Homo sapiens: one gene and its partner. The protein of the gene in region 1 purifies or fractionates together with the protein of each later gene. This does not show direct contact. Each region holds a gene or a part of one and is shown in the gene's direction. Other genes may lie near its edges.

Region 1 (8,896 bases):
GAAAGGCTTTCTTTGGTTCCTAGTGCTGTGTAACTAACATAGTAAACATTGCCATTTTGTGTTAGTGTTAAAGAATGTTTATTATGAAACTAGATCAACTAAATATTTGCGTTGTTATGGTTAGATTTGAAACAACCCTTTGTCTACTTTCAGCTCTATAATGCTTATGTGGAAACTCAGGATCAGTTGCTTTTGGAGAAACTAGAGAACAAAAGAATTAATAAGTACCTAGATGAAATAGTGAAAGAAGTGGAAGCCAAAGCACCAATTTTGAAACGCCAGCGTGAGGAATATGAACGTGCACAGAAAGCTGTAGCAAGTTTATCTGTTAAGCTTGAACAAGCTATGAAGGTTGGTTCCATTCCTAAAATTTAGCCGTGGTAACAATACAAATGAGAAATGATTTACTAGGTATTTTTTTTTCTTAAGGTGATTGAGTCAGAAAAATCTAAATACGATTTTCAATAAACACATTTTGAAACTTATTAAACACTGCTGATCTCAAAACGTCATACCTTTATTTAGCAATTTTTATGTATTTCAATTTTTATATAAAATTGTGAAAGCATTTTAACCTTTTTTTAATGCATTTACTATGTTTTCCTTAGGATTCTCAACTAGAGAATAATAGCCAAATCTCCTAAAACTGCTCTTCAAATTAAAATAATCTCTGTGTAATAAAACTCTCCTATTTGCCATAATCATTCTTTATCAGACAGTTGTAATAGCCTGCCTAGAAATAATAATATTGTTTGACCATAGGTAGAACTCCTTTTTTATACCATTTCACAATTTGGCGTGTCTCTATATGCATTATTTTGTTATTGCTCATTTGCTTATTAGAAGTGTTAATGAAATTCATAAAGATTTTTTCCTTTTAAGAGATACTGATGGAAAAAGAGGTTATACTCTGAATGTTTTGCCTTATGGTACAACTATTAACATTACTGAGGGAAATTGTCAAGATTTCTTGAACAAGTTTTATGGAGGAAATTCAGTTAAATGAATTTATATCTACTCTTCTAAACTGATAAATTGTTTCCCTTTTGTTGGAAAAGAATATAAATATATCCCTATTTCAAAATTAAATCTCTGTTGCTGTTATAATTTAGAAGTCAGTTTAAATCCAAGTACTTTATTATATCAGCTGGTTTTTTTCTTCTTCATCAAGTGAAGTCTAGCAGTCCCGCCTGCCTGAGAATATTGACTTTTTTACCAGCAGTGTAGTTTGCAAGAGAGCCCTTGGATCCAATTAGATCTTCCTTGAATTTTTCTCTCTGTTGAAAGTGAGGGTTTTACCTGAAGCTTGTTATTGTCTGAATGAGAAATAACATATTCAAATTTATACAAAACTTCTTTTTTAGTGGCTACAATATTATGTAGGATTTTATTTAGTGTATAAGTTGATTACTGGTGGTGTTTGAGTATTGTATGTCTTTATTACTTGTATAAATCCTAGAAGGAAGTACAAAATTTTCACTTGAATTTACATTTTAAAGGAGATTCAGCGATTGCAGGAGGACACTGATAAAGCCAACAAGCAATCATCTGTACTTGAGAGAGATAATCGAAGAATGGAAATACAAGTAAAAGATCTTTCACAACAGGTTAGAATTTTTTTGTTTGTTTTCCTACTTTTAAAAACCTGACTGCCCAGTAATCTTTGAATCTGTTTGAAGGTACCTAAGATAGAACTACCATGTATGAAATTCTAATTAATTAGGAATAGTACTCGAGCAGAGTTGCACCCCCATTGTTTCTTTTCATAGCCCCTCCCTTTTTTCAAATGTTTGATAAATTTTTAAATTATACGTGTTGGTTGTAATAAATGAAGAAATAATTCAAAGATAAATAAAAGCTTTCTCCAATTTCTACCCCTCTACCCTCTGAAGTCCCAAAGTGTAGCTAAGTTAACAGACAGTTGTGTATTTTTTTCACATCCTTCTCTGTATGTGTATATACATGAGCATATATAAACATATGTAAGAATTATTTGATTTTACTGAAGTAAGACTGGACTGTATGCATTACTCTGACACTTAACAAGCAAATCAATAAATTAATGTCTCATTCATATATTTTACCCTAATTTGTGTGTGTGTACATCCACGCAATGCACAAATGTAAAAATTTCACATGAATGGCATTATATATATGCTTTTTGTTTAAATGTCTATTTTTCATGCTCTGCCCTATCATATATACAAAAGCACACACAAAAAAATAGATATTTGTGGGTTTTATTTGATCACTGTTTTACAAAACTGGAGCCATGTTTTGGGAATTGTAATTTGGCTACTTTGTAATAAGTAATAGCCTTCAATACATACTTAAAAGTAATTTTATTCTATTAAAATTTGATTGTTTAGATTTTAATATCCAAGGATGCTTTATTTTTAAAGATAATTTGAGGCAGTACAAGTTGAAGGTTTTATAAGTAATGTTTTAATTTGAAAACTTTCATTCTAAACTTGTCCAGAATTGTAACTAATACTATTTTATAACATATTAAAACTTTGTTTTTAGATTAGAGTGCTTTTGATGGAACTTGAAGAAGCAAGGGGTAACCACGTAATTCGTGATGAGGAAGTAAGCTCTGCTGATATAAGTAGTTCATCTGAGGTAATATCACAGCATCTAGTATCTTACAGAAATATTGAAGAGCTTCAACAACAAAATCAACGTCTCTTAGTGGCCCTTAGAGAGCTTGGGGAAACCAGAGAAAGAGAAGAACAAGAAACAACTTCATCCAAGTAAGTAGTCACATACCTCAGCTTGTTGAGCAAACATTTATGAAAACCTCAGCTAGGCTCAGTGTCTCATGCCTGTAATCCCAACGTTTTGGGAGGCCTAAATGGGGTATCATTTGAGCCCAGGAGGTCGAGACCAGCCTGGACGACATAGTGAGACCATGTCTCAAAAAAAAGTAAAAAATTAGCTGGGTGTGGTGGCACATGTCTATAGTCCCAGCTACTCAGGAGACAGGCTGAGGTGGGAGGATCACTTGAGTCCAGGAGTTTGAGGCTGCAGTGAAGCATGATCATGCACCACACTCTAAGTGGGACGACAGGGTAAGACCCTGTTGCCCGCAAAAAAAATCTATGTGTTCCTAACAGTGCTAGATACTTGGGATATAGTGATATAGGGAGGAAAGAATTGAGCAACAATACCAAACAAAAAATTTCTACTCCAAGACCTCAGGTTATGGGTAAGACAGATGTAATAAATAGATAATAAAATAGGCAAGTAGACAATTTGCATTCACTGTGATTAGTGCCTATCTGTGGGATCATAGCGGTAGAGGACTTGTCCTAGATTTCAGGGAGCAGACCGGCTTCATGGAGAACCTGGAGAACCTATGTAAGAATTAGTCAGAGGTTTTTTCAAAATACATGTATAATGTCTTCTAGAAGAGGAAGAATGGCTAAGAAAGCAAGAAGACTAGAGTTTGGAGTGAGTGGAACTGATTTAATTTTTACAAACAAATTTTTCAGATTGCATTGGTAAGTATAAGTACCTGAGTCCTGTGTGGTGGGGATTTAAAAAGTAGTTCATAAAATACTCAGCATGAAAAAAAATAATGAGAGAGACAAAAATGGTATGATGAATGGTAGGCAAAGATGCTTGGTTAATTACAGTAGAAATTACAATCAGTTAACTCTCAGTTCAGTCCTGTGAATTAGGCCGACTTTTTCTACAGAATCACTGAGCTTCAGCTCAAACTTGAGAGTGCCCTTACTGAACTAGAACAACTCCGCAAATCACGACAGCATCAAATGCAGCTTGTTGATTCCATAGTTCGTCAGCGTGATATGTACCGTATTTTATTGTCACAAACAACAGGAGTTGCCATTCCATTACATGGTAGGTTTTTATAAAGTTATTTTAAGGAATAATTTAGAAATGTATATTAAGGGATTAATTTTGCAACATAAGCAATAGCCACTCTAATGATGGTAGCTTCAAATTTGACTACCATATATAATTGCTTATAACATCCCATCAACTGTAAAACATACCATTATTTTATGTATTGCTAAAAAGAAATGCTTTCTATTGTTGAAAAAGGTGCATTTCAGAATCAATGAATTACAGTATTTATTTTGGTTATGTTTTAATGACCAAAACAGATATGTTTTAATAAAACATAAATATGGATTATGTTTTAACCCATAAATACTGAATTATCTCTAATAACCATCAAAAAATCTTAATACATTGTTTAGTAGATTCCTTATTTAAAAACTCCTATAATCTTATTGTTTCATTTCAATAAGTTTAGCTTGTTTATTTGATAATAGTGTATTTGCAAAGAAGCATTAGATTAAAGCTGATTTATGAAAGCCAACAAAGCATTTTATTAGTCTTTACTTTCCTGAAGCTTCAAGCTTAGATGATGTTTCTCTTGCATCAACTCCAAAACGTCCAAGTACATCACAGACTGTTTCCACTCCTGCTCCAGTACCTGTTATTGAATCAACAGAGGCTATAGAGGCTAAGGCTGCCCTTAAACAGGTAAAGATCACACCTTTGTCCTGGGTTAGGTTTTTAGAGAACACAGTGTTACCTTCTCATAATCTCCAATATTTAGTTGCAGGAAATTTTTGAGAACTACAAAAAAGAAAAAGCAGAAAATGAAAAAATACAAAATGAGCAGCTTGAGAAACTTCAAGAACAAGTTACAGATTTGCGATCACAAAATACCAAAATTTCTACCCAGCTAGATTTTGCTTCTAAACGGTAAGTTTTCTTTTGTTTCAAATTAATTAAGTCTAAATGTTATACTTTACAATTCAAATCATTTAAATTCAAGAGCTAATTTGCAATAGTGTTGCTTTTTTTGTGAACTGTGTTCCAGAATGAGAACCTCTGGTAGTTCATTTTTTTCATATTGATTAATGATTCTCTAGGCAGTGCTAAGGGTTTAGCTTGTTTGATAAGTTGAAGCCAGGCGCAGCAGCTCACGCCTGTAATCCCAGCACTTTGGGAAGCCGAGGCAGGTGGGTCATTTGAGGGCAGGAATTCAAGACCAGCCTGGCCACCATGGTGAAACCCCATCTCTACTAAAAATACAAAAATTAGCTGAGCGGCAGTGTTGCATGCTTGTAATCCCAGCTACTCAGGAGGCTAAGGCAGGAGAATCACTTGAGCCCAGGAGGCAGTGGTTGCGGTGAGCCAAGATTGGGGCCACTGCACTCCAGTCTGGGCAAGAGAGTGAGATTCTGTCTCAAAAAAATAAAATAAAATAAAAATAAGTTGAAGTTCATGTGAGGAATGTTGGTAGTTTACCTTCCTAAGATTAAAGGACTTGTTTCGGTAGGACTTAATTCTTTTAAAAATGCACCAGATGATGAGAGAAATGAGAGCAAATTTTATTCCACCTTTTCTATTCTAGGTAGAAGAGAAGCAAGTGCTATGTAGTTTTAGGAGAATTAATTTTCTTGGTCACATCCAAAGAAATAATAAATATTTCATGATTATTTGTTATTAAATTCATTGAATGCTTGTTAGTTTAGTTTGTTAGGACAATATTTATTTTTATATAGTACATGATAAAACTGTTTCTGTTTTATAGCAGGCAGGATATATTGCAGGCAGTTACCCCTATACATCTAATAGTTCAGCAACCCCAATTAAAGCACTTCTTTTTTCTCTGTTGATACCTCTAGCCAGCCATTATGTCAGCTTTCAAGCACATAAGAAAATAAAACTGAGGATTATAGAAGAAAAAAGGATTAGCAAAAATCCATCACTAACCCTGTATAATAACTTAATTTGTATACTGCATTGTAGTGGGTGTCTGGTGTTATCAATATTGCATTGTCATTACTTTAAATATAATTGATTTTTTAAAAATAAGATTAAAAAGTTACTTAGCATGAAATACTTTGCTTACTTAGAACTTGAACCACTACATTTGGAATTGGGAAAAAAGAATGAAGGTTTTACCTTATTACACAAGCCACTTCTTCATAAATCATAAAATTAACCCCTTTCCCATTTAGAAAAAAAAAAGTGCAGCTTGCTGCCAGCGCTCATTTAATTTTACATAAGCATGCTGTTTGAGGTTGAGGCAAATCTGACAGATTTTCAGTGTGAAAATAAAATATAAAAACTGTTCCTGGAGTTATTTCTAAGCAGAATTCAACTTAACAGAAATATGTATGATGTTACATTAGGATTAGAGACAATATTCTCAGGGCATTTGGGGAAATGGGTTAAGCTATTGTGAAATTTCTTCAAGGGATTAAGCTAGGATATCATTTCAGTTACTTGTAGAATTACTTTTTTCATACCAGTTATGAAATGCTGCAAGATAATGTTGAAGGATATCGTCGAGAAATAACATCACTTCATGAGAGAAATCAGAAACTCACTGCCACAACTCAAAAGCAAGAACAGATTATCAATACGATGACTCAAGATTTGAGAGGAGCAAATGAGAAGCTAGCTGTCGCAGAAGTGAGTCCAATATCCCTTGTCCAACTTGCATTATAAGTTGCATTTGACATTTCTTTAGTTTTTACTTTGAATTTTACTCACTGATAGGACTTAGGTATTTAAGAAGTTTGGAGGTTACACCAAGTAATTAATACATAGTTTGCAAATAGCCAGTGTGCGTTAGTGGGGTGATTGTTTCTATTAAGATAGAAGAGGGAAAGGAATTTGTTTTTCTGCTGGGCTAAGATATACTCGCAAGTCTTGCATTTCAAAATAAATTTGTAGGTCAGTGTTTGGTTCTAACAAAGACGTTTTTTTTTTTGGTTTTTTTTTTCTTGAGACAGAGTCTCACTCTGTCGCCCAGGCTGGAGTGCAGTGGCACGATCTTGGCTCACTGCAAGCTCCGCCTCCCGGGTTTACGCCATTCTCCTGCCTCAACCTCCTGAGTAGCTGGGACTACAGGTGCCCGCCACCACACCTGGCTAATGTTTTGTATTTTTAGTAGAGATGGGGTTTCACTGTGTTAGCCAGGATGGTCTCGATCTACTGACCTCGTGATTTGCCCGCCTTAGCCTCCCAAAGTGCTGGGATTACAGGCATGAGCCACAGTGCCTGGCCAGACGAATATGTTATTCATTCTTGCTCATCTGTAATAAAAAGCAATATAAAAATTACATTGCATTGAATTTATATTTCTGAATTTTAACTTGAATATAAATGTCCATTTGAAATTATTACTTTTAACTAAATACTTAGTTTTGTGATGATAAATTTTTTATATAGTTTTCTTTGTTATTCAGTTATCTCTTCTGTCTTTGATCATTACTTGTAAGCTAGGTATAGTTGTCCCCCATTTTACCTGTGTAAAACAGACTCAAGAGCTAATGTATAATTTGCCTATTTTGGGACAGTCATGAGAGATGGGTTGGTTAGGACTTGAACCCATGTCTTATAATGCTCTTATAAGGCTGTATTCTTTATTTTTATCTTGCTCCAACTCCATTGTGAGGAGTGGGCAGCAGCACTTTTTCAAACTGGTAGAGTGAATTTTATCATTGATCATTTATATGAATCTGTGTGTAAATATGAGTACTTGTGTGTAAATATGAGTACTTTGAGCTTTCAAAACACTCTCCCTGGTCCCCTTGAGACTCAGACTCTTGGGGTTGAGGGGAGGGAGAAACTTTAAATAGATCAATCATCACTTTTAAACAGGTACTTTGAAACCGGCTTGGATTCTAAAAGTTACATAATTTAATAGTAGTCAGGTATGAATGATTACAGCAGTCATGCAATTCTGCTTTCTTCTTCTCACATATTAAATTTTTCTTGCTGTTATTTTTTAAACTGTGGATTGTTAGAGCAAGGAACCATAAGTATTTGTAATTGAAAGATTTTTTCATTGATGATCCCCAATAATTTTTGCTTCGTATTTTAGCACATGAAACTGTTTTGTATTTCCTTATACAATGAGGAGATATAGTCCCTAAGAGCATTAAAAAAAAGTAGTGATGTATGAATCATTTTAATTTTATAATCTTAATACACTTGACACCATGTTTTTCAGCATTTTTTATTTCATTTCTACTTATGTTTAGGTAAGAGCAGAAAATTTGAAGAAGGAAAAGGAAATGCTTAAATTGTCTGAAGTTCGTCTTTCTCAGCAAAGAGAGTCTTTGTTAGCTGAACAAAGGGGGCAAAACTTACTGCTAACTAATCTGCAAACAATTCAGGTAACCAAATAAAAAGCCTATGTAGAAAAAATGTATAAAAGTTAAATTTAGATTTTTTTTATCCTCTCAATTTCCTTAATTAGAAAATTTATCCATCACTTTTGTCATCCATTATGATCATTGAATTTTGCAGTTTATTAAGACATTTAAATATTTTAAATAAAATATTGAAAGAGAATTGATTGAAACCATACATTGGTAAGTCCTCAGGTATATTTACAGTGTCCTGTGCAGTTTTACTATTTATAAGATTAATTCTTTGGTTTTTATTTTCTTTAAAACTTTGGGAAATCTGAATGACGATTATAATACATTCCATCTCTTTCCTGTATAATAGATGTTTTAATATAAAAAATACCAGAATACTTTCTTGATAAATACTGTAGATTTTAGCTGCTTCATGTAGAAATGGGTTGTAATATTGTAATTCTTTCTTGCCTTCAATTTTTATTTTTTTGTATTGCCTTTTTCTTAAGCATAACCAAAAATCTTTTCTTTGCTTTAGGGAATACTGGAGCGATCTGAAACAGAAACCAAACAAAGGCTTAGTAGCCAGATAGAAAAACTGGAACATGAGATCTCTCATCTAAAGAAGAAGTTGGAAAATGAGGTGGAACAAAGGCATACACTTACTAGAAATCTAGATGTGAGTCCATCAGAGTTCTGAATTTCTGTAGGGTGTTTATGTTCAGTAATTAATCTGGTGTGTGGACAGTCTGCCA
Region 2 (16,356 bases), on another chromosome or scaffold:
GAGAATCTGATTATTCTCTTTACAATTGTGCAGTGGATTCCATAGGGACAGAAATAATTAGATTAATGTTGGTAGTAAATCCTCATCAATCTTTACATTTTAATTATCCATTTGCACAGGGCTCTTTGATGTAGAAACAATGACCTAGAAATAAGATACCTTGTGTTTGTTATTTCCAAATAAATAGTTTTAAGAGTATGTTCTTCTTTTTCTGATTCAATATTATTGATATTCCAACAGATGGTGAAGGAGGAATAGAAGATGAAAACAGGTCTGTTTCTGGGTTCCTTCACTTTGACACTGCTACAAAAGGTAATGCCCTTTGAATTTGTAATAAATTTATTTTATAGACATATATTAAAAAAAAAAAAACTTCAAGGGATTATTATGCCTGTGCCTCCAAACTCTGAACTGGTATAGAAAAGTTATATAAAGGATTAATTGCCACCTGAAAATTTTTTTTATAATAGGATTATACAAAAGGAAAGAAAATATTTTTGTTAATGGATGTATCAGAAATAAAATCAAATTTAGATTCCAATACAGTTTTCAGTTTCTTGACTATTTTATGCTCTTTCTGAAAATAGCACTGTCTTTGAAAATCAACTGAATATGATGGCTTGCCTTTCTTTTCAATGTCCCAAGTAAAATCAAATTACTTTTTATTATTTCTAGTACGTCGAAAAATTCTAAATATTCTTGACTCGATTGACTTCAGTCAGGAGATCCCTGAGCCTTTGCAGTTGGATTTTTTTGATCGGGCCCAGATTGAACAAGTTATTGCTAACTGTGAACACAAGAATTTACGGGGACAGACAGTCTGCAATGTCAAGGTGAGGATTGCTTTAAAGTACATATCTGCAGTGTCAAGTGGCTCAGACTTTAAGTCATCAGAAACAAATAGAACCATATAGGTTTTCTTTCTGATAGAGACATTGGTTTAGTAGTTTATAGGAAGGACTGTGATTTTTGTAAAATATCCCTGAAATAAAACTTAATATATCACCTAACTTCTTGAAAAGGGATACTTAATATTTTGGTCTGGAAATTGGACAGTGCTCCTGTTAGATTATATATAAAGGTATCTGACACCTTTCCCTTTAGGGCAGTTTATGGTAATTGCTAGGTGTTACTGTTCTACCAGTGTCTGAAATGTCTTATTTTTCTTTCTTTTCCTAATTATCCAGCTTCTTCATAGGGTTCTTGTAGCTGAAGTAAATGCCCTTCAGGGTATGGCAGCCATAGGACAGAGACCTCTACTAATGGAGGTAAGCTCTATTGAGTATGTGTTCGTTTCAAACTTCTAACTACTTAGGTTGCTGGTGAAAAGACTAAAATAGTATATTGACATGTAGTTTGCTAATTAGTAAGCTGCCTAAAAATTAAACATTTAGGGAGTCTTTCACTTTTGATTTTATAACTTTTATAAACTGAACTATCTGGTATGCCAAAATAAATAACACCTTTTCTGCTAGGCTAGTTAAGGATTTGCAACCTGACCATATTTCGTATTAGACTTCACTTGGTCCCCATCAGTGAGAGAGGAGGGTCATTTGTCATCACAAGTGGAAAGTTACAGATAAGAGGTCAGGTGGGAAGAACCACATGAATGGAGATACAGCCGGCCAGGCCAAAGCAAGAGGCAAAGAAATAAAAGAGATGTCAGAGAAACATGCCATTGAACTTGGAGTTTAGATAATTCTAGTGCTCTAGAGTAAGCAAGTATAAGTAGACAGGTACAAGGAGAAAGAAGATGGTGTCAAAAAATACATATTTATCTATGCCACTTCTGTCCCCTACCTTTCATGCACATACACACACATACACACCTTATATGTTAATATTTTTTATAGCCCTGGCTACTGAAATAATATGAAAAGATACCTGCTTCCTGGCATGCATGTAGTAGGTTTCCAAATAAATATTTTCTGAGTAACTGACAGATAACTGATCTTATTTGCCTGTTTAACCTTGTGATTCAATTCCTGTGGCTTTAGGAAATCAGCACTGTACTTCAGTATGTGGTAGGAAGAAATAAATTGCTGCAGTGTCTTCATGCAAAACGTCATGCTCTGGAGTCGTGGAGGCAACTAGTAGAAATTATACTGACAGCTTGTCCCCAGGACCTCATTCAGGCAGAGGATCGACAACTGATTATTCGTGATATTTTACAAGATGTGCATGATAAGGTGACGTACTTCCTAAAATACTTTATACTGCTGAACGAATGTATCATTTAAACAAATATATTTTGGCATCCTAATTGTTTTCCATTTTCGATTGGGAGTAAAATAGAATTGTGCAATACCAACGTTAAGACTTTCCTTGAGAAAGGGATTAATTCTGTACAGTAGTGGCTCTCAACCAGAGTGTGTGTCTGAGTTATCTCGGGAGCTTTGTAAAAATTCACATGGACAGAGCCCACCCCAGACCTACTGAATGTAGTGGTGAGACCATTTATGTGAATTTCAAAAAGAAAACCTCCCTAGGGAATTCTGATAGGAATCCCTTCTGGTTAAGAACACCCATTACCTAGCATCATGTTTAAATTTCTCTGTATATATTAGATTCCTTTCTTTCTTTCTTTCTTTCTTGACTAATTTCTGTATTCCATTCTTATATTGTTACCATAGTTGACAAGCTAAATGTATATAAAACTTGTTAATGGGCTGTGTGCAGTGATTCATGCCTGCAATCCCAGAACTTTGAGAGGCCAAGGTGGGAGGATCACTGGAGCCCAGGAGTTTGAGACCAACCTGGGCAACATAGTGAGATTCCATCTCTACGAGCATGATGGTGTGCACCTGTAGTCACAGTTGCGGGAGGCTGAGGTGGGAAGACCTCCTGAGCCCAGGAGGTCAAGGCTGAAGTGAGCTGAGATTATGCTACTGCACTCCAGCCTCGGTGACAGAGCGAGACCCTGTCTTCAAAAAAAAAAAGCTATGAAATTTGTTAATGATTATAGCTGAAAGCAGGATTCTCACTCTAATTTGCCCTTGTCCTTTAAGATACTGGATGATGAAGCTGCGCAAGAGTTAATGCCTGTGGTCGCCGGGGCAGTGTTCACACTGACTGCTCACCTAAGCCAGGCCGTCCTCACTGAACAGAAGGAAACATCAGTCTTGGGACCAGCAGAGGCCCATTACGCTTTTATGCTTGATAGTTGCTTCACCTCACCTCCTCCTGAAGAGAACCCATTAGTGGGTTTTGCTTCTATTGGAGATTCTTCACTTTACATCATATTGAAGAAACTGTTAGACTTCATTTTGAAGACAGGTTTTTTTCATTTAAATTGTCTATAAATTCTATCTTTTGTATTTGTTTTAACTTTAATTGAGAAAAGATTTTCATTTGACATCTTCCTAATCTCCCTAGGTGGTGGATTCCAACGAGTGAGGACTCACTTGTATGGCTCTCTGCTTTATTACTTACAGATTGCCCAGAGACCTGATGAACCAGACACCTTAGAAGCAGGTAGAATGAGATCAATTCCTAATCTTTTCTGGATTGGGAGATGGTTACTTTAAATTGAAAAAAAAAATCACTTCTCCATCTTTTGACTAATCACAACTGTAAAAAATGAGTGTTAGTGTCATTTTTAAAGCATTTACTCAAAAGTTGAGGAAGAATGTTTAGTTTTTAAGAATTATGAAGTAGTACATGAGTACTACTTTTAAGATAACCTTCAAATAATACTTTAGCTTTATATACTTCTGTAACTCCCTCACTTGCCTCAAGTCCGACTGAACAGTGTGCTCTACATAGAATGGTCCAATGTCTTTCTTTCCTTTGTGCTACATCAGAGTACTTATCTAGTTGATTCTTTTAAAATATCTCGGCCTGGCATGGTGGCTCACGCCTGTAATCCTAGCACTTTGGGAGGCCGAGGCCTGTGGATCACCTGAGGTCAGGAGTTCGAGACCAGCTTGGCCAATATGGTGAAACCCCATCTCTACTAAAAATCAGAAAATTAGCAGCCATGGTGGCAGGCATCTGTAATCCCAGCTACTCAGGAGGCTGAAGCAGGAGAATCGCTTGAACCCAGGAGGCAGAGGTTTCCCAGATTGCGCCACTGCCCTCCAGCCTGGGCAACAAGAGTGAAACTCTGTCTCAAAAAGAAACACAAAAGTCTTTGTTATTCCATGATATGGATGAAACACTTATCTGCCATTTTCCTTATTCACAGGCATTTCAATTGTTTCTAAATTTTTATTACAAAAATGCTACATCAACTTTTTTTATATGCCTATATTTCTCAAAAAGGATACTGCTTAATGGTGGAATTTCCATGTGTAAAAGTATGTACTTTTATTTTAAAAAGATTCAAATGAATGACCTTCTCCAGTATAAACTCATCAATAGTATACATGTATCTTTTTGTACTAGTGAGGTTTTGTTTGGATAAATTCCAAGAAGTGGAATTTCTTGGTCAAAAGTTAGGCACATTTAAAATATTGCTAAATGCTGCTTTCTAAAAAGTTAGCATTTTTAATTGAAACTAATCTTAAGACATGAAAATGTTATTAAGTGTTCAACACATCAGTATATAATGCTTTATATACTTTATAGACATTTGATGTTCAATCAAGTTATTCAGAGTTATTCTGCCATTTGTTAAGAAGTTGTCAGAGCACCTTCTGATAATGGATTTTCTTTGGGCTCTTCACCTTTGTGAGTGTTATTTTGTATACACTGTTAAAAACCACTGTGTACGTAAGGTTGACTTGATCTCATTATCCTTATGGTGGTTGTATTTTATGCCATACATAGTACCCTATAAGGTAGTAATAGCCAAATGGTAGATTTATAGGCATGTAGCACCCACATAAATAATGCATGAGAATATTTGTAAGATGAGGAAAAATAACAGAATAGTTTAGAGAAGTTTTTTAAGCAAACATGAGCTTCTTTTAAGAAAAGAGATAGTAATGGGATTTCTCCACTCAGCACCTCCCACATTTTTCTTTTGTGTGTGTGTTTTTCTTAACATTCCATTTAGTTGAATTGGCCAAGTCACCACTTAACCACTAGGTGGGGCTCTACAATAGGCTTTTTATAAGAAGTCATCAAGATGCCAATTTAAAAACTGCTGCTATGTAGCAGTTGGAAAAAATGAGATTAGTTTCCAATACAAGTTATTGCTTTATTTAATGTACTTGTGAAATTTTTAAAGAGTCTCACATAAGAGTATGTTTGTGGGTCTTACATAAAATGTATGATCATACTGTTCCTAATCATTGTATAATGGTTGTGCTTTTATTTTTATAATAGGTGTGCTTTTATTTTTAATAAGTATTTCAACTAAAAAAAAGAATAAAAATATCTGATTTTTTTGGAGGCAAATTTTTGTCTACATTGTACCTGATCCTTTCTAGCTAAATTTTCTTTTCTTTTCTTTTGTTTTTTGAGACAGAGCTTCACTCTGTAGCCCAAGCTGGAGTACAGCGGTGCGATCTCAGCTCACTGCAACCTCCACCTCCTGGGTTCAAGTGATTCTCCTGCCTCAGCCTCCCCAGTAACTGGGATTATAGGTGTGCACCACCACGCCCCACTAATTTTTTGTATTTTTAGTAGAGACGGGGTTTCACCATGTTGGCCAGGCTGGTTTTGAACTCCTGTCCTCAAGTGATCCACCGCCTCGGCCTCCCAAAGTGCTAGGATTACAGGTGTGAGCCACCACGCCTGGCAATTTTAAAAGATCTCAATAAAAGATAAAAGATTGATTAGCGGCTGGGCACGGTGGCTCACACCTGTAATCCCAGCACTTTGGGAGGCCAAGGCAGGCAGATCACGAGGTCAGGAGATCAAGACCATCCTGGCCAACATGATGAAACCCCATCTGTACTAAAAATACAAAAATTAGCTGGGCATGGTGGCATGCACCTGTAGTCCCAGCTACTGGGGAGGCTGAGGCAGGAGAATCGCTTGAACCTGGGAGGTGGAGGCTGCAGTGAGCCAAGATCATGCCACTGCACTCCAGCCTGGAGACAGAGCCAGGCTCTGTCTCAAAAAAAAAAAGAAGGAAAAAAAAAAAGACTGATGAGCAGGATAAATACAGGACGTTGGTTCTCATGGAGTCTTGTAATTCATTTTGATCTCTTTCAGAATGATTTATCCTTTTCCAGGTACAATTATTATCTTAGTGTTATGAAACATGCATGAAATAGGTGCATTGTGTTATTAGAGTTAACCTGCTTGGACCCACCGGTCAGTGGGCCTTTGTGTACAAGCAGTGATGGAAGGATTTTTTTGTTGCGTTTTTTTTTTTTCTTCCTTAGCTCATACCTAGCATGTGAGGTATAATTACTCAGTTATTACACTGCTTTTTACTGGAGTGTTTTTTTCTGTTTTAATCCTTTTAGCCAAGAAAACCATGTGGGAAAGGCTGACAGCCCCTGAAGATGTATTTAGCAAATTACAGCGAGAAAACATAGCCATTATTGAAAGTTATGGCGCCGCCCTCATGGAAGTGGTCTGTCGAGATGCTTGTGATGGTCATGAGATTGGAAGGGTAAAGCAACTCTTATTTAGTATTATAATTGAATAAGTATTTTGACTTATTAAGGTATAAACTGATTCACGGCTGGGTGTGGTGCCTCATGCCTGTAATCTCAGTGCTTTCGAAGGCCAAGGTGGGTGGATTTCTTGAGTATAGGAGTTTGAGACTAGCCTGGGCAACATGGTGAAACCCCGTCTCTACAAAAAATACAAAAAATTAGCCAGCCATGGTGGCATGCACCTGTAGTCCCAGTTACTTGGGAGGCTGAGGTGGGAAAATTGCATGAGCCCAGGAGGCAGAGGTTGCTTGCGGTGAGCTGTGATCGAGGCACTTCACTCCAGCCTGGGCTGCAGAGTGAGACCCTGCTGCAAAAAATAAAATAAAATAAATTGATTCAACTTTTAATAATGTATGGTACATATTAAGAATCATTTTTTATAATATACTGTATTTTCTTATTTGCTATAATTTGAGACTTCTGTTTTATTTATTCATATGTTGTGTTTAATTTTGTTAGAATCTTAATTCAGAATTGCCTTTCAGAATTATCTTCTTGCTAATTTTGAGGTTGACTGGTAGAAACAACAGAAACGCTGCTTAATAAAGATCTTTGGTTAAGAGAATGCTGAATAAATTGCCTTGTACTGAATAGATCTTTGTCTGCCTAATTGCTTTGTGGAGAATTTGTATTTATATTTCTTGTACAGTATGGTGGCACACTGGTAATGATGCAGTGAGAAGATAACTTCTTCTTAATGGAAAATTATGTAGCAAAATTATGTAGCAATTAAATCATGTTTTTGAAGACCATAGGAAATAGGATTTTAAAAAATAAACTGGCATAACCTTTTAGTTACGTTTCTTTGTTTGTTTGTTTGTTTGTTTTTGAGATGGAGTCTCGCTCTGTCGCCCCGGCTAGAGTGTAGTGGCGCAATCTCGGCTCACTGCAAGCTCCGCCTCCCGAGTTCACGCCATTCTCCTGCCTCAGCCTCCCAAGTAGCTGGAACTACAGGCGCCCGCCACTACGCCTGGCTAATTTTTTGTAGTTTTAGTAGAGACGGGGTTTCACCATGTTAGCCAGGATGGTCTCGATCTCCTGACCTCGTGATCCTCCCGCCTCGGCCTCCCAAAGTGCTGGGGTTACAGGCATGAGCCACCACACCCGGCCACCTTTTAAGTTATGTTTTAAAAATTTTAAAATATTTGTATGCATAGAAAAAATACTGGTAGGAGACAGACCAAAATGGATGAACTGTATTTATCAGATTGTGTAGTTATTACTTTTTTTTTCTTTTTTCTTTTTATTGAGACAGAGTCTTGCTCTGTTGCCCAGACTAGAGTGCAGTGGCATGATCTCGGCTCACTGCAACCTCTGCCTCCCAGGTTCAAGCAATTCTCCTGCCTCAGCCTCCCGAGTAGCTGGGATTACAGGCATGCACCACCATGCTGGGGTAATTTTTATTTTTATTTTTATTTTTTTTGAGACAGAGTCTCGCTTTGTCACCCAGGCTGGAGTGCAGTGGCACGATCTCGGCTCACTGCAACCTCTGCCTCCCAGGTTCAAGTGATTCTTTGCCTCAGCCTTCCGAGTAGCTCAGATTACAGGTGCCCACCACCACGCCCAGCTAATTTTTTTTGTATTTGTAGTAGAGATGGAGTTTCACCATCCTGGCCAGGTTGGTCTTGAACTCCTGACCTCGTGATCCACCCGCCTTGGCCTCCCAAAATGCTGGGATTACAGGCGTGAGCCACCGCTCCCGGCCTAATTTTTTTAATGGCCAGGCTTGTCTCGGATTCCTGACAAGTGCTCCACCTGCCTCTGCCTCCCTAAGTGTTGGGATACAGGGGTGAGCCACTGTGCCCAACCTAGTTATTATTTTTCTGTGTTTTCTGTAATGAGCATTATAAAACTTCACAGTGAGAAAAAACAGCTGTTAAAAAAATTTCTTTTCTCTAACAAGCAATGTTAGAGTCTACTAAAATACATCTAATGCCACTAGTTTAACGTGTTAGGTTTTGTTTTGGAAATACATCTTTACCTGAGAGCTTTCCTTTATTGATAAATTGAGGTTCTGGAGCCATAGTTTTTAACTTCTCAAAAAAAAATAAAAAGGAAATTTTGTTGCAAGTAACATTCTCTTTATGAAAAACATTCTTCATATTTCATATCTGATGTCAGATAAATTCAGTTACTGTTGTTGATTTTGGTAGCATCTACATGTTTTGGACTTTAATTTATTCTTCCTTCAGATGCTGGCCCTGGCTCTACTTGATAGAATTGTCTCCGTGGATAAACAGCAGCAGTGGCTTTTGTATCTTTCTAACAGTGGCTACTTGAAGGTCCTCGTAGACAGCTTGGTAGAAGATGACCGTACTTTGCAGAGCTTACTCACCCCACAGCCTCCCCTTTTAAAAGCACTTTATACTTATGAATCTAAAATGGTAAGGCTTTCTAGACATTTGATGTTAGATCAAGAAGTCGTTTTCTCTTGGCTATAGATGTATTAAAGAAAATTAATGTGGCATACATTCTGAATATTTCTATCATAAGCTGGAATCCTTTTTTAAGGAGTTTTAAACTTTGGAATCTTCCTAGTGTGCAAAAGATGAGTGAAATGATCCTCAAAGGGATAGCTGGATAATGGGACTGCTGCTTCCCTCACTCACTCAGGTTGCTCATGATGGCAATATGACAGCCAGTGCTCCGTGAGGACAGAGCAAAATTGTCCTCTCACAATACAATTTAGACTATAGTAGTTGCCTATTGAAAATTTCCATGTAGATATGCTAGTTCTATTCTAAACACAGCATTTTCAATATAGTATATAATTCATTGTTTCTTTGCCTGCAAATCTGTTTTAATTTCTTTTTCCTCCTAGTTAAAAGGATCACAAATGTTACGATAATAGAAGCACTGAAATTTTAGATTCTTCATTTACTCCTTTTTCCTCCTTCATTTATTTAACAGGTATTTATTAAATACCTGCAAAACGGCAGGCATGGCACTAGGTACTAGAGACACAGCTGTTAGCAAAACAGACAAAATTCCTTGCCCTCCATGGGCCCACATGATAATAACAGGACCCACACTGTAAACGAATACTTGAATCATGCAAGCTACTGTCTGTGGGCGCTTTAGATATGTTGAACACTGAGTCCTCATGAAAATCCTAGGAAGAAAGCGGTATAATGTAACCTGTCACTAGCCCAGATTTCTCTTCAGTGATAACTAAGGATGAGAAATTTGCCATCAAAGTGTTGCACTTTTCTCTGAGGCCCTTGGACATGATTTCAGCACTGATGATTTTTCTCTTGTAACTCCTCAGGCATTTCTCACAAGAGTGGCAAAGATACAGCAGGGTGCATTAGAGCTGCTAAGATCAGGGGTGATTGTGAGACTAGCTCAATGCCAAGTCTATGACATGCGCCCAGAAACGGACCCGCAGAGGTAAGTGTCTGTATAGATTAATTTGGTTAAACTCCCAGTAAAGGATTATTAAGGGAAGAAAAAATTCCAAACATAATTTTGCCGCTTAGCAATTCTCTTTCATCTTGGTGTGGGTTTTTTTGGTCATACTGTGCCCCTGTCATTTACTAATAAATGGAAGTTGCTACTAGGGAAAAAGTAGGTAGGAGTGGGAGAGAATTTAGTAAATGTGTACTTGCCCAATGTTATTATTATGTTCAATTGAAATACTTGTTTGCAGTTACACTATCTTTTAAAGAGTTGTAGTAAAATTATAATTTGTTATGGATTTCCTGTTCCGGATGATTTGAATAGAATTTCAGATTATATATATATTTTTTCTGATTTCAATATTTTGCTTACTGCTTGCTAATTCAAAAGCTTCAAATGGAATTGTTTTCAAGTTTCAAGCTTTTCAGCTGATTTCTTAGTTTCACATTCGATTTGAATGTGGAAAATTTGATTTGATTTTCTTTTTTGTTTACATGACTGCAGCATTGTTAGGTAGATAGCATACCTTCCTAGAAGTAAATAATACTTAGTTTGAGTTTAGTAATTGTTTTAAAAGGATCTATTAGCAACTTGAATGTTTGGATTTTTAAGGCTTAACTACAGAACTGTTTTACCTCCAGGGAAAAACATTTATTTTAGTATTGCGGTCTAAAGTTTCAAACATGAGAGTTATTACTTTCACCTTAGGTAAAGTGGGTTGAGTTAAATACTCTTTAGTTCATGGCATGCTATTATCACTTGTCTGTGCAAAGCCTGTCTCTTATTTTCTTATTCTGCTTTCGTTCCCCCTCAATAGGCAGCCATTTTTTTGGTCTAAAAATTTAAATATAAACATTAACAATAAATATTAGCTTATTAATACGATGTTCTGAGACCTACTCTGAAAGGTTAAGTGATTTTACAGCCTCATTTTGACTCTTAAATCTTGTTTTATTTTTATACAGATTGAGCTTCTCTAATCTGAAAATCTGAAATCTGCAGTGCTGCTAAATCTCAAACTTTCTGAGTGCCAATATGATGCTCAAAGGAAATGCCCATTGGAGCAATTTGGATTTTGGATTTTCAGATTAGAGGTGCTCAACCAGTAAGTATGTATAATGCAGATATTTCAAAATCCAAAAAAATCTGCAACACTGCTGGTACCAAGCATTTTGGGTAAGTGGTACTCACCCTATACAATGGGCAGCATAGTGGATTTTTGGCTTGGGTAGAGGAGAGAGAATTTTAGGGAAAGTAGCTTTTTAAATCTGTTTCTTACTTAACAGCCTATATGGCCCAAGGAAGCTTTAGAGAAGAATAAAAATGTTTTGGAAGTTTCAAGCATTATCTTGTCAAATTACATAGGTTTTCCTCGATAAGATTTTTCAGAATTCAAATAACTGTTTTTACTAACTAAGCTATGAGTTTAGGAAGACACATCTTTCTCTGGACCGCGGATGTATATATGGGATGCAGAGTACTCACTAGTTGATTCACATCTTAATCAGCCGGCTCTGATTTATTTGCCATATCAGTGTTAAGGAATTGCCGAGAGTATACCTTAATTCTTGGAATGTTTTCTCCTTGTTTGGTTGAAATAAGCATGTTTGGCATGAGAGACCCTCCAATGTTCATCCCTACCCCAGTGGATCGCTACCGCCAGATTCTCCTCCCAGCTCTCCAGCTGTGCCAGGTCATCCTCACATCTAGTATGGCCCAGCACTTGCAGGCAGCAGGGCAGGTAAGGTGAACCCTTTGTTTAGATATTGTCTAGAGCAAAATCCTCATTTTACAAGTACAGAAACCTTACACACATAGAATGCTTAAGTGAATTTACGTTAGTCCTAATGTTTGTGGCAGAGCAGGGTAGAGAAAAGAGGCCCCTGTACTTTGTTCTTAACTACATTGGTCCATTTTTATACTGTTGTTTGAATGAAACACTGTAGCTAATTAATAGAATCATAAGACAGGAAACAAGAGATTGAAATTTGTTCTTCTATAAAAGAAAGCAGTTATTGTGATAGGAGTAAGCTGGCTTCTAAAGTGTAATTTAACCAGGTATCTATTGAGAGAGGGCTATGCTAGGCCTTGCAGGCTGGGCATGGTGGCTCACGCCTGTAATCCCAGCACTTCGGGAGACTGACAGATGATAATACTGCATTTATATATGATAGAGAATGAAATAATTTAAATGAGTGATTTTGCTGTCAAAATTTTTTTAAATACCAGAAATTAGTTTTATTTTGATTACTTTTCAGTGAAACACTAACATTCCAACACACATTTTTTTAAAAATTAATATTATATGTAATTTAGCCTTTCACTGATTGATTAGGCTTATCATGAATCTACAACCTTGTATTGCTTTATTGTATTTTGGAACTGTGTCCTAAAACACTTTGATTTCTGGTAATTTTTTCTGCTTTCTCTACCATCAGGCCTTAGGCCATCTCACCAAGGTAGATGCTGCTGTTCTAAAGTGGCACCTTATTTTATATCATAGCAATCTGGGTTGACGTCCTACTTCTTTTAGGCCTATGTGGTCTTCAAGTTAGTACTTTTTAAAACTCAGAGACTTTGCCTTTCTTCCCCTAGATTGAGATTAAGATTTTTTAGTAGAAGTGGGACATTATGATATAAGACACTGGTTCCCTAACACCAATCTTGTATTGACTGAAGCAGAATCACCTGAGGAGCCTCTTAGAGAAGCACAGATGACTGAGTTCTGTGACCAGACATTATAAGCTTAGGCTAGGAATCTTTATTAAAAAACAAAAATGATCACAATTCTGAGTGATTCACATCCTTGGCTTGTTTTGGCATATAGTCTGCCTTTAAAATGTTTGTAAGCTAGTTGAGATATTCCTAAGTGAAAATACTGAAAGAGGACTCCATGAGTGTACATTATAAAATGCCAAAGTGGAAGGGTAGAGCTGGGAGGTCAGGATTTATATCTCCTTTTTTTAACCGCATCAAAAGGAGAGTTATGGCCAGGTGTGGTGGCCCATGCCTGTAATCCCAGCACTTTGGGAAGCCAAGGTGGGAGGATCACTTTAGCCAGGAGTTTGAGCCCAGCCTGGGCAACATAGTGAGACCCTATCTCTCTCTCTCTCTCTCTCTCTCTCTCTCTCTCTCTCTCTGTCTCTCTCTCTGTCTCTCTTTTTTTTTTTTTTTGAGACAGAGTCTCACTTCGTCACCCAGGCTGGAGTGCAGTGGCACGATTCCAGCTCACTGCAACCTCCACCTCCCAGGTTCAAGTGATTCTTGTGCCTCAGCCTCCTGAGCAGCTGGAATTACAGGTGTGCACCACTGCATCTGACTAATTTTTGTATTTTTAGTAGAGATGGCATTTCACCATGTTGGCCAGGCTGGTCTCAAACTCCTGACCTCAGGTGATACCCGCCTCAGCCTCCCAAAGTGCTGGGATTACAGGCGTGAGCCACCATGCCTGGTTCCTATCTCTATTATAATAAAAATGAATTTTTTTAAAAAAAGAATTAGACAAAAGCTTTTATGTGATTTCCCCATGTCATGCTAGTTACTGTTTCATAGAACAGCTTCTTGAATTCACTAGTCATTTTTATACCCATTTATATTACATTCTTACTCTAGTTCATTTGGCCAAACAATAAAGAAAATAGGGGTCAGATAATAGTTTTCATACAGTAGTTCTGAGTTATATTCTTCTACAGTAGTCTCCAAATGTATTAACTTATAAGCTTTAAAATAATCCTTTAGTCTTGTGAATTTTAAATGTTTACTTCCTGAAGAGATAAATATGTGAGTGCAGAAAACAATTGCTTATCTGTTACTCATCCTCACTTATTGTGAGGCTGAGTATTGTATTACTGAGTATTATGGTAAAGTTGAAGGTTACTTCCTTCAACATTATTTATAAAATGAATTATGCATTTATATATAATTTTCTACTTCTACCTGTTTTTTCTATTCCTCTTCCTTTTCAATGGCTTAGGTATTGCAGTTTCTTATTTCACATTCTGATACCATACAAGCAATTCTGCGCTGTCAGGATGTTAGTGCTGGGTCTTTGCAGGAATTGGCTCTGCTGACAGGAATTATAAGTAAAGCAGCACTTCCTGGTGAGTTGATTATGTTGAAAGGATTTTTAATAATTCTTTAAAGACTGACATAAATTAATAGAATGAGTTTTTTTGTTACTTTGCAGCTATATATGACTTATTTGAAATTGGTACTGCTAACAGAGCCTTTATTTATGTAATAAGTTTATGTTTATAAAATGATACATGCTTGGCTGGGTGTGGTGGCTCATGCCTGTGATCTCATCACTTTGAAAGGCTGAGGCAGGATGATTGCTTGAGGCCAAGGGTTCAAGACCAGCCTGGGCAACATAGAGACACCCTGTCTCTACCAAAAAATTTTAAAAATTAGCTGGGTGTTGGGGCATTCACCTGTGGTCCTGGCTACTTGGGAGGTTGAGGTAGGAGGATTACTTGAGTTGGGAAGGTTGAGACTGCAGTCAGCCAAGATTATGCCACTGCAATCCAGTCTGGGCAACAGAACAAGACTCCGTCTCTGTTTTGTTTTGTTTTTTTTTTTTAAGATATAGGCTTATTATAAAAATATTCAAAAGGAGATAACTAACACTCAAAATCTCACCACCTAGAAATTACCAAATGTTGACATTTGATAAATTTTCAAACATTGCTTTATGTGTACGTACATATGAGAAAGGGAGGGGGAGAGAGAGAAAGAAAGCAACAGAGACATACAGAGGCAACTAATGAGAATAGGATGACCTTTTACATGCTGTTTTAAAAAACAAATATTTAATTTTACATGAATTTATTTATTTTTTTATTATACTTTAAGCTCTAGGGTACATGTGCACAACATTCAGGTTTGTTACATAGGTATACATGTGAATTTTACATGAACACAGACAAAAATCTAATTGAAGAGAAACGAAAGGAATTGCCAAATTCCAGACAAATGTTTCTTTACTACTAGAGTATGTCACCTTTTAAAAGATCACTGCGAGTAAGGAAAAACATTATGAAACATTATTAAGATACTTTGGTTACTTTCCCCCCTTATAATTTCTTTACTACATGTAAATTTTGAATCAGTTAACTCCCTGATGGGAAAGATGAAATGATGACTTCTTTTACACTTCCTCTTCCACCCTCAGATGATGTTTGCTTATATCATTTTAACCTTGTCAGGTTTTGTAACATTTACATCTGTTATGCAACCATAATATCCTCAGCTACTTAGTTTTAGTTGTATATTTACATGGATTCACTGCAAAACACCAGTTGTGTTCCCCACCATGGCGTCACCATTCACGAGTTCTTTCTTTTGATTTATCTCTTGGTATTTTTTTTTTTCTTTCTTTCTTTCTTTCTTTTTTTTTTTGAGACGGAGTCTTGCTCTGTCGCCCAGGCTAGAGTGCAGTGGCGCGATCTCGGCTCACTGCAAGCTCCGCCTCCCCGATTCACGCCATTCTCCTGCCTCAGCCTCCCGAGCAGCTGGGACTACAGGCGCCCGCCACCACGCCTGGCTAATTTTTTGTATTTTTAGTAGAGACGGGGTTTCACCGTGTTAGCCAGGTCTTGATCTCCTGACCTTGTAATCTGCCCGCCTCGGCCTCCCAAAGTGCTGGGATTGCAGGCTTGAGCCACCGCGCCCGGCCTATCTCTTGGTATTTTTAATTTGTACTGAGGTTCCTTCCCTCAAGAAAAAGCATGCTGTCTCATATTCCTGAAATTCTCTAAGAATGTCTGAAGGTTGTCTTTGTTCTTTAATGACAGGACGGCCGATTATGATTTTCTTTTGCTTAGAATATGTAATATAAATGATAGTAGCTGGCATTTATTAAGCATGTATGTGCCAGGTACTGTTTTAAATACTTGACATGTTAATTGATTGGAAGACACAGCAGTCTTATGAGGTAGAACTGTCATTATCCACATTTTACAGCTGAGGAGGCTGAGGCACAGGGAGGTTAACTTGTCCAAAGTCACACAGATAACACTGCATAGTATAGAGTTTCCCAGGCAGTACGTCTTTTGAATCTATATATGTAACTACGAGGCTACACTACCTCCATTTTTATGTTGCTTTGGAGATGTCTGAGGCAACCTCTGAATCCACCCTATAATCCCCAATAATTTTTTTTGTCTGGGCTGTCTCGGTGGCTGAGCCCTCTGGGTTGAGAGACGTTGAGAGTTGGCCAGGGCTGAGTACAGTGCCAGCTGAGTTACTTGGAGCCTGTGCTTCTTCCAAGGAGATCCCAGGGTCTATTCCACCCAGCCTGTGGTGTGCTTCGTTCACCAGTTCATTCCAGTGTCCTAAGATGATACCAAGTCAGGCCACCCTTCTTGTCTCTACTAAGGTCCTGTAGTGTTGTGGGGTGGAA

What was found.
Region 2: the proteins of TPR (region 1) and NUP205 purify together in Homo sapiens (affinity purification with western blotting; 2 studies listed by BioGRID, with this or other methods). This does not show direct contact.

The regions. Positions count from the first base shown.
Region 1 is NC_000001.11:186,351,254-186,360,149, reverse strand, and holds part of TPR (nucleoprotein TPR), read left to right. Parts: intron 1-153; coding exon 154-351; intron 352-1,499; coding exon 1,500-1,607; intron 1,608-2,526; coding exon 2,527-2,753; intron 2,754-3,700; coding exon 3,701-3,864; intron 3,865-4,381; coding exon 4,382-4,515; intron 4,516-4,591; coding exon 4,592-4,740; intron 4,741-6,299; coding exon 6,300-6,462; intron 6,463-8,039; coding exon 8,040-8,174; intron 8,175-8,679; coding exon 8,680-8,820; intron 8,821-8,896.
Region 2 is NC_000007.14:135,616,415-135,632,770, forward strand, and holds part of NUP205 (nuclear pore complex protein Nup205), read left to right. Parts: intron 1-240; coding exon 241-312; intron 313-675; coding exon 676-833; intron 834-1,187; coding exon 1,188-1,268; intron 1,269-1,997; coding exon 1,998-2,189; intron 2,190-3,008; coding exon 3,009-3,276; intron 3,277-3,375; coding exon 3,376-3,474; intron 3,475-6,362; coding exon 6,363-6,511; intron 6,512-8,749; coding exon 8,750-8,941; intron 8,942-9,825; coding exon 9,826-9,947; intron 9,948-11,558; coding exon 11,559-11,697; intron 11,698-13,929; coding exon 13,930-14,056; intron 14,057-16,356. UniProt on the Homo sapiens protein: Plays a role in the nuclear pore complex (NPC) assembly and/or maintenance. May anchor NUP62 and other nucleoporins, but not NUP153 and TPR, to the NPC.